Linked DNA regions of Homo sapiens: region 1 is linked to region 2. The links come from fine-mapping of genetic effects on gene expression. A gene starts in region 2. The other region holds a variant in brackets. All regions are shown on one strand. Distances are between the middles of the regions.

Region 1 (5,397 bases), 21 kb after region 2:
ATTAAAAAATGTGGTTGGGGTGACCTCAGAGCATAATTCAACCTCCGTAGGGAGGGGACTTTGTAAGAGGAGAGCGATAGAAAGGGTCAGGTTTGGAGCAATAATATAAAGGGTAATAGTAGATGTTGAGGGCGGTAAAGGTTCTTTGGTGAAAAGTTTTATTGCATCAATGAATGGTTGAAGCAGGCCATAGGGACCTACAATGTTGGGTCCTTTGTGTGGTTGTATATAGCCTAAACTTTTTCTTTTGATGAGTGCAAGGAACGCTATAACGGTAAGAGTGGGGATAAGGAGAAGGTTAATTATAGGCATATTGTTAAGAAGAGGAGTTGAAATTCTGATTATAAAGTTTTAGGTTTTATGCAATTGCTGGGCTCTGCCATCTTAACAAACTTAGCACTTACACTAGCATTTTTGCATATGACATATCTCAATGCCTGTCTTAATTTCCAGCATCCCACACCAAACATATGAAATATGTCTGACAAAAGAATTACTTTGATAGAGTAAACAATAGAGGTTAAAATGCTCTTATTTCTAGGATTTGAAATAATTCCTAGGTTCTATAGGAATTGAACCTACCCCTGAGAATCCAGAATTCTCTGTGCTACCTATTACACCACGTCCTAGAGCAAGGTCAGCTAAATAAGCTATCGGGCCCATACCTCACAAATGTAGGTTACACCCTTCCCGTACTAATTAATCCCTTAGCTCAACTTAGTATTTCTCTTACTATTTTCACAGGAACTCTTATCACAATGCTAGGCTCACACTGATTTCTCACCTGAACAGGCCTAGAAATAAACAAACTAGCCTTACTCCAATCTTAATTTAAAAAATAAATCCCTGCTCTACAGAAGCAGCCACCAAATATTTCCTTACACAAGCAAGCACATCTATAATTCTTATAATAGACATCCCTCCCAATAACCTGGCTTCCAGACAATGAAAAATTATAAACACTATCAATCAATTCTCATTCTTAATAATAGTGGCCCTAGTAATAAAACTAGGAATAGCCCCCTTTCACTTCTGAGTCTCAGAGGTAACCCAAGGAATCTCTGTAATGTCTGGTATACTTCTGATATGACAAAAACTAGCCCCTATCTCGATTATGTTTCAAATTTTCCCATCAACAAACATGAACATCCCCTTATCTATCAGAATCCTATCCATTAGAGTGGGCAGTTGAGGGAGACTTAATGAAACCCAACTGTGTAAAATCCTGGCCTACTCCTCAATCACTCACATAGGTTGAATAACAGCAGTACTAATTTATAACCCAAATATTACCACCCTAAACCTGATTATTTACCTTATCTTAACAACAGCCGCATTTCTAGCACTCAACCTGAGTGTAAGCACCACAACCCTGTCACTATCTCACGCCTGAAACAAATGAGCATGGCTGACACCTGTAATTCCACTAATTCTACTATCCCTAGGAGGTTTACCCCCATTAACAGGGTTCCTGCCTAAACGCATCATCATCCAAGAACTTACAAAGAGCAATAGCCTTATTACCCCTATATAAATTATAAAATTCAGTGATTTTTATATATATTCTCATCTTGTGCATCTATTACCACAGTCTAATCCCAGAATGTTTCTGTCACCTCAAAAACATATTCCATATCTGTGAGCCCTTATTCCCAATTCTCCCTTTCCCACATTACCTGACAATCAGTAATGCGCTTTCTGTCTTTGTAGATTTCCCTATTCTAGATACTTAATATAGACAAAATTATCTACTTCTCTGCAGAATTCACAGAAAAATAGGGAACTTATATAATATGTAACTTTTTATGTCTGGCTTCTTTCACTTAGCTAATGTTTTCAAGATTGTCAATGTTGTAGGGTGTTCTACTACTTTAATACTATGTATTGTTGAATAATATATAGATATATGGATATATTTATATGGTATAGATATGTCATATTTTGTTTGTACATTCATCAGTTGATAAAATGAATTATTTCCACTTTTCAGCTATTATGAATAGGTCTGCTGTGCACATTCATGTATAAGTTTTTGTGTGACAAGTAGTTTCAATTATCT[T/C]GTGTAGGTATCAAGGAGTAAGATTACTGGGTTATATTTTTTAACTTCTTCAGATATCACCAAACTATTTTCCACACTGATTGCATCATTTACATTCTTACCAGCAATGCATGAGGTTTCCAGTTTCTCCATATTGTCACAAAGATTTGTTAATATCCATGTTTTTTATTGTAGCCACCCTAGTGGTGATAAAGTGGTGTTTTGTGGTTTTAAGTTGGATTTCTCTAATGACTAATAATGTTGGGAATCTTTTCATGTGCTTGTTAGCCATTTGTATATCTTCTTTGGAGATCTGTGTAATGAATTCTTAAAATTTTTTGTTGCATCTGTATCCATTTTCAATACAAGTTTAACTTTCTCACACCAGAATCAGCACTAATTTACCCTTGACACAGTGTCCAGTCTAGACCACACCCAGATTACTCAAGCTGGTGGCCAGAGATGAGAACTCAGGAACTCCTTTTCTGTCTAGGAGACTGGGATTCCCTCTTTCCTGCCACTTCCTTTAAATGCACTATTCAAGCATTTGCCCAAAAACTTAAAGTGATCCACACCCTATTTCCTTATATATACTTTCATGAGCTCATTCTCTTTCTGCCTGACTCTTCATTCCTGCCTACATGATACAAGGATAAAGGACCACCCTTCTGACTCATTGCACCCTCCTTGACCAGGATCTGTAAGTAAAAACCTTTGAACTTGTTCCCTATTGTGGTGGTGTATTAAATTTGCGCTTTCTACCTAAAGCACCAAGGGTTGCTCCAGGTTGAGCTTTGCTTGGGACACCAGAAGAGAACACAAGGTCAGGTTCCTAGCCCCAGAGCCTTAGTCAGAGAATCATAAACTTGACACATTGCAGAAGAGCCACAAGGGCATCTGCCAGTGTAAACACGTTTCCCATGTGAGAGACAATCCCCTAGTCACAGGTTGGACAACAAGGCTTCAGGTCACCTGCCAGGTAAAAGAAGTATCACATGAAAAGCACAGAGTAAACACCCACATCTAGTTCTTCGTTGTATTGTGTTAGGGGCGGGTTGCTAGCTTCTCTAGTACTAGAACCTCAGTTTAGCTGGGAGCTCCAAAAACAAACTGTCTACTCAAATACTTTGGCCATTTTTCATGGACTTATTTTTAAATTGTTGAGTTGTAAGTGTTCTTTATATATTGTGGATACTAGACCCTTATCAGACAGATGATTTGCAAACACTTTCTGCCATTCTGTGGGTTGTCTTTTTGCTTCCTTAATCGTGTCCTTTGATGTACAATTTGTTTTTATTTTTATGATGTATGATTTCTTTATGTTTTGCCCTTGGTTGTGTGTTAGATGTTATATCTAAGAAACTCTTGCCAATTACAAGGTCAAGAAGATTTATACTGTTCTCTTCTAGAGTTTTTCTTGAGATTCTTGCATGTGTATAGTTCTTTGAAATCAAATTTGAGAAATATTTGCCCATATTTCTTCATATGTTCTTTCTGGCCATTTTACTTTTCCTCCTTCTTATGGGCCTCCCATGAGTGGTTGTTGGTGTACTTCATAGTTCCCACAGATCTCTGAAGTCTGTTCATTTTCCTTCATTTATTTTTCTTTCTGTTTCTCATACTAGAGAATTGTATGATCTTTAAATGTATGGCTTCTTTCTTCTGCATGCTGGAATCTGCTTTTGAGACCCTCTAGTAATCTTTTTAAAATTTCAGTTATTGTATTTTTCATCTGCATAATTTTAGTTTAGTTCTTTTTTATAATTTCAATATATTTGTTGATATTCTGTATTTGGTGAGACCTAATTTTTATGCTTTCTAAATTTTTATGCTTTCAGCTCTTAAAAATGACAGTAAAGGAAACAAAATTTATAAATACCATAGATATTTTAGTAAAAGCAAAAAATATTTATTGGTTAAAAACACAAAAACACTTACTGTATACAAAACATACACCTAATGTAAAGTGAAGTTGAAAGTAGAGTGGTGAACTAAGTCATATTTTTTTAAATGTCAGCAAAATCAAATTCTGATTAAGAAAATTAATATTTGAAAAAGCTGAAGCCAAGGAAATATCATTAAGTGTTACTGGGAGCTCTTATTATGCTTATAAAGAATATGATAAGAATATGATAGCATAACTGCCACGAATCCTCTTTACCAAATCACATAATATTTAAATATATAAAGAAAAAAATCCTCTGAGTAGAAAACAATACTAGGGAGAGATTTAAACATAATTGTCCCTGTCATTAGCAAATCAAATACATCAAAAACTTAAGTGTATAAGGTATAAATAATAAGGCTAGTCTAGAAACACATAAAAATCTATACCCTGTCAAAAACATCTTTCCAAGCTCCATGAAATATTTATAAAAATTGATCATTAAAAGAATCCTAAAAAAATCAATACATTAACATCACCTGAATTGATTATGTTCTCTTTTCAAAAAGCAATGGAAATCATTATGGCCTAAGTAGAAACCAAACTGAAACTTATTTACCTGACGGAAAATTAAAATCTGTCTCAGATGCAACTGTTAATAAGAAGAGATAAAAGAACGGTTTGATTGTGTAATATATTTGAGGATTGGTGACAAAGAGTTATCTTTTATGAGATGTCACCAAAGATGTATGCACATGAAGATTTGTCACTTTACTTATTTTGCCAGTAGATATAAGGATAATTTAATTATGTATTTAATTCAATTAAAAATGGCAAAAGAATAACAAACCTATGGACTACATTAAAAACTGACTAATAAAGATCAAATGGGAAATTTGACAAATTATAGCACACGGGCATATGTTAAAACTGATTATGAGACCCATGCACTTCAACGGTAATAAAAGAGATAAGCTACCAGCTTGTTCAATAAAGTAAAGAAAATATGAAAATCACGAAGAGAAACGAGATAAGGAAAAGCTTTACAACTACTGGCCAGATTTTGAAACTTTAAAAAGTTATTTGTACTAATGAAGGCTAATCAATTTGAAAACCTAGGTAAAATTTATGATTTTCTAGGGAAATGTCAATAAAAAATTGAGGCAACAGATAACAGAAATCATGGAGTAATAACTATAGCAGACATTCAGAAATCCAAAAGCAAAGATGATTTCAAAGGAAATTATTTCAGATCTTCTAGAAAAATATTTACATGTGATTTGGCCAGGCAAGGTGGCTCATGCCTGTTATCCCAGCACTTTGGGAGGCTGAGGTGGGTGGATCACTTGAGGCCAGCAGTTCGAGACCAGCCTGGCCAATATGGTGAAACCCAGTCTCTACTAAAAATACAAAAATTAGCTGGGCATGTTGGTACGCACCTGTAGTCCCAGCTACTTGGGAGGCTGAGGCATGA
Region 2 (5,397 bases):
GATCTTGGATTTGGAAATTGATTCTTTCTTAAATATGACACCAAAAGCACAAGCAACAACAAAAAATAAATAAGTAAATTGGACTTTATCAAAATCAAAAACTTTTGTGCAACAAAAGACATTATCAAGAAAGTGAAAAGACAATCTACAAAATGGTAGAAAATATTCAAAAGTACGTATCTGATAAAAGTTTAATATCCAGAATATATAAAAATCCATACAACTTAAGAACAAAAAGACAACCCAATTTCAAAATGGGCAAAGGACTAGAATAGTCATTTCTTCAAAGAAGATTACATATAGTTGAACATAAAAAGATGTTCAACATCACTAGTCATTAGGGAAATGAAAATCAGTACCACAATTACATACCAATTCACATCCACTGAGATAGCAATAATAATAATAATTTAAAAACTGAAAATAACAAGTGTTGATGAGGATGAGGAGAAATAGAAACCCTCACACATTGTTGGTGGGAATGTAAGATGGTGCAGCACTATCAAAAACAGTTTGGCAGTTCCTCAAAAGTTAAAAAAGAGTTACCGTGTGTTCTATCAATTCAACTCCTAGTTATATACCTCGAAGAATCAAAATAGAGACTTAAACAGATATTCATGCAGCAATGTTCCCCATAGCAGTATTCACAATAGTGAAAAGATGGAAACTACCCAAATTTCCATCAACAGGTGAATGAATAAACAAAATGTGACATATACATGCAAGGGAATATTATTCAGCAATAAAAATGATTAAACTTCTGATACATACTACAATATGGATGAATCTTGAAAACATTATGCTAAGTGAAATAAGCCAAACACAAAAGGACAAATACTGTATGATTCCACTTAGGTGAGGTACCTCGAGTCTCATAAAGACAGAAGGTAAATCAGAATTTACCTGGGATTGGTTGGAGGGGAATGGGGTGTTAATGCTCACTGGCCATGGAGCTTCAGTTCAGAGTTATAAAAACATTTTGGAAATAGTGGTAATGGTAGCACAACACTGTGAGTGGAATTAATGGCATTGAATTGTATACTTGAAATGGTTAAAATGGCAAATTTTATGTGATATATACCACTGTTTTAAAAATTAAAAATTAATAAAAGTAACATTACTGAAAACCATTGAATTGTGTACTTTAAGTTTGTGAATTGTATGGCATGTGATTTATAGCTCCATAAAGCTGTTAAAAATAAAAATACAAAATATTCACCTCGAAGTCATGTTTACTGGATGTAACATAGATTGGTTTTTGTTTTATTCTTTTTTTCTCCTTTCCCATTTGTAATAGTTTCAGACTATTATAAACACTTCCATGCTTTTATCAACACTAAAACAATGTTGTCAGTTAATAAGTGAATTCCATTAGAAGTATAAATATGCTCGCTAAATTAAAATTGGAAACTGCCATCAGAATTATCTTAGTTCTGCATTGATCTAGGTCTCTTGTCACACATTCAGAATGCCACTTCGCACAGTATCTGCACGTAATGGATATAAGATAAACTTAATAATAATTTATATGAATGCATGATAAGGGAGAAAAACTTATATGATCCATGCAACTTCCTTTCCTCTACTCAAAATTTCTAAGTCAGTTCCTTTATCATCATTATTCCTAGAGGTGGTTATATTCTTTAGAACCTCAATTCTTACAACTCACTTATTCATTGGGGGAAAAAAAATCAACTGCTTAAGAGCTACCGGCATATTGACAAATACAGTAAGTCAAACATTGCATTTTTTTTTTTTTGGCCTGATGAAGACTCATCATTACACCATTGAGTTTCAGAACTGGCAGGAAACTTTATAATGAAACAAACATTTTATTTCCCTCATGTAAGGATCCACCATTTTAAGTAAAATTGCCTGTGTTTGAATGTCAAATTGACATAGTTGATGAAAATGGAAAATCATAATATTGAACTTGAAATACTAAATGTATAGAGTGACACTAGCAATTTCCTTCATGGAAGAATCTGTGGACGGTGTAATAGTTTACCTTATAAATAAATAGGAAAGACATTAAAATTTAAGTCTAATAGTCCAGGGATTTTCAAGAATGGGAGATATATCTTTAATCTAGGAAAAATAAAAGCAATTTGAGACTACTAAAAAACAAAAGTTGAAGTAGGAAGGATTTGCCATTCCTCACCTTCCAATACTCACACTGAAACCCTTTCTTCTTTTATTACAACTCCACATCCTTACTCTTAAATATCATCTTCCTTCTTTGTAGTTACCCAAATCTTGAAGGCCAGACACCTTCAAATGTTTTTTCATTTTAATAGAAAATTATTTCAGACTTAAAACCCTTTCAGAAGACAAGTAGCTTCAATAATTGAATTAACAGAGCTGAGAATTATATAAATTTACCTGGCTTCTGCCTGCTGACCGTGGTCTGGGTCATCTGGAGTCCCAGCAGTTTAAGACCAAAAATAATTGCTTCATATCAAGATCTTTTGTGTTGCTTCTGCCTCACACCCTTGCAACTGACGGCCAAGCTGGTCCCTTCAGCTCCTGGTTGTATGCTCAGGCTTTGACCATCTGTCCTGTCTAGCCCTGTGGTTTGGGTTTCCTCCTGCTTCCTGATTTCATGCCTGATTTCAGCCTCTTAATTTTTCTGAGCTCTTGGTGTCAGTGTCTGTCTTATCTTTACTTAGTTCCTAATTTCTATTATGTTTTGATCATCCCTACTTCCATGTCCAATTTTTCCTGCTTTGGTATTTTGATGCATTTCAAAACTACACTTCACTCCCTACCCAATCTCAACTCCAAGATCATCCCTGGCTCAGTTCATGCACTAACCATGCTATGTACTGAGATTACTACTCCGAGAATTTAACATAGACTAGTCTTGAATAAAGTAAAGGCAAAGAGTCAAACACAACTTACTCAAATTAATCAGAGCAACTAATAAGCATTCAATTAGTGCTTAAGGAATTAACAGATATTTGTTGACTCAATTCAGACTTTTTTCAATAATAACCCACAAAATAGATGCATATGGCCCTATTCATCAATAAGCAAAATGTACCCGCGGTGAGGGTGAAACATTTAATCTATTGTATATTTAAGCCAGTGGAGATCAGGAAGCTTAAAAGACACTGAATCCACAGGGACAATGTATTGCCAGCCAAACATAATTAGCTAGATTAGACTGTTAGGCTCACTGATGCTGCAGTTTCTTTGAAAAGGACCATGTGGTTTGGTAGATGACAATAGGCAGTTATGCCTATGGCAATTTGTTTTCAGAAATCAAATCAGTAAGAGCCCCCTTCTTGCTACATTTTATTTTGGGATTTAGAATTATATTACTGACAAACATTAATTTTCACTGTATCCTGAATAGGCAAAAAATATACATTATACATACATTATACATTGTGTTATACAATTATCATACATTATATATTTGTTACTCGTGTCATTAAGCTCTTAAAACAATCATCCTGGAATTGGTCTTCCATTCTCCATTGTGTGTGTGTGTGTGTGTACACATGCATGTATAGGATCCTTTCTTATGTGTGTGTGTGTGTACACATGTGTGTATAGGATCCTTTCGTGTGTGTGTGTGTGTGTGTGTATTTAGTTCTTGGTTACTTTTTTTTGTTCCTACGATGGACATTTTTTCTTCATCAGTTGTCACCAAGTAGTCCAGGGCTGCGTGTCTTCTAATAAGTCTATTAATTCTTTTTTTTTTTTTTTTTTTTTTTTTTTTTTTTTGAGACGGAGTCTCGCTCTGTGGCCCAGGCTGGAGTGCAGTGGCGCGATCTCGGCTCACTGCAAGCTCCGCCTCCCGGGTTCACGCCATTCTCCTGCCTCAGCCTCCCAAGTAGCTGGGACTACAGGCGCCCGCCACCACGCCCGGCTAATTTTTTTGTATTTTCAGTAGAGACGGGGTTTCACCGTGTTAGCCAGGATGGTCTCGATCTCCTGACCTCGTGATCCGCCCGCCTCGGCCTCCCGAAGTGCTGGGATTACAGGCGTGAGCCACCACGCCCGGCCTATAAGTCTATTAATTCTTAAGTAAAGTATAAAAGGAAAATAATCATATGGAGCCCAGTTAATTATAGTGAATTATGCACATGTAGTCCAATATGTGATATTACCAAGGGCTTGCTGTTTTTGAGTTTCATGAAACACTACCCTAAAGAACTTTTCAAAACAGTTGTATTTAAATTTGCTGATTAAAATGTTAAAGACTATGACTCATGTGCTACAGATCTTTATGACAGATACTGTCATGGAAAACAGTCTTCAGGATGTAGTGGTTTGGCACTGTGCAGTGTAAAGGACTTCAAGATGGCCTTTCTTTATCACTAGTACAGCTTCATATTACATTGTTCTTTCTAATGTTGGACACTTTGCACTGAGTAATATTTTAAGAAATCAACATTAAGACTAACTTTTGCAATTTCTTTTATTTGCCTGAGTTTATTTGGATCTAAACACTCAGAGTTCAAATTACATTTGCTTTCCTGAATGTGGTTGCCTTGGTGTCCTGCAAAAAATAAAAAATAAAAAACAAACTTTACTTATGGTAATACATTCATGAAAATAAGTGTGCTGGCTAGACAACATGTCTCTCAAAAGTTTCTAACAAACAATAACCTGAAAATGTACTATGGTAAATGTCAATAGTTTTTTATTTTTGATGGCCCTGTGTGCTTTAAGGAAAACCGAGGGAAGTGGTAACTGTGCCTTTGTCAATCCAGTTTACGGGAACTGGAGCAACCCAGAGAAAACAGAGGTAAGTGGCAAGGGTGAACTATATCTTTTCACACATATGCACACACATACAAACACACACACACACACAGGCTGAACCAGTGTTGCTTGATCATGTTTCTACATCATAACTAAAAGAAATGTTTTAGTGGAGTTATTTCAATTGGGGATAGAAAGGAGTTTCCATCTCTATAAATATGCTGTGAGAATTGTCCATTTCAGGACAGTTTCAGTCTGCTTGTAAGATCACTTCACTGTTAAATGGTGTTGTGGTCACTATTTATACTCAAAAAGAGCTGAAAAATCTGGGAAATATCAGTTTAACCCACAGAGTATTAGTCAGCTGCTTACAGTAACTATTCATTGAATGTCTTTCATATTTTATTTTCAAAAACAAAAGAGAGGATAGCATTCTATGTTCTGTTTAAATTTAGGGTGACTAGTGAGGGCCATTACCTGATAACTTAGAAGAGAAAAAACAAATGAGAATGTATTACATCTTCCTTGGCCCTTTTTGGGGCTACCCCTTATTTTTATAAGCAGGGAGAAAATGGCAAGGAAAACCTTTCTTGTTCCTTTTTTAGATTTTTTATATTTTAAGTCATTTTTAGGTATAGTTGACAAAACTTTTATATGTTTAAGGTATACATTATATTTTAC

What was found. PIP is the estimated chance that this variant, and not a neighbour inherited with it, causes the effect.
Region 1: its variant is fine-mapped to the expression of MALRD1-AS1 in whole blood (TOPMed, PIP 0.96).

The regions. Positions count from the first base shown.
Region 1 is chr10:19,747,124-19,752,520 of GRCh38, forward strand. It overlaps the pseudogene MTND1P37, the pseudogene NMTRQ-CTG1-1 and the pseudogene MTND2P16. Among named protein-coding and RNA genes, the nearest start is that of MALRD1-AS1, 21 kb to the left of the region's middle. The variant T/C (reference allele first, on the strand shown) is at 2,060.
Region 2 is chr10:19,726,023-19,731,419 of GRCh38, forward strand. It overlaps MALRD1-AS1 (MALRD1 antisense RNA 1), which reads right to left and starts at 2,528. Exons shown (of 5, transcript NR_120646.1): 1 at 2,383-2,528. It overlaps MALRD1 (MAM and LDL receptor class A domain containing 1), which reads left to right. Exons shown (of 40, transcript NM_001142308.3): 39 at 4,684-4,759.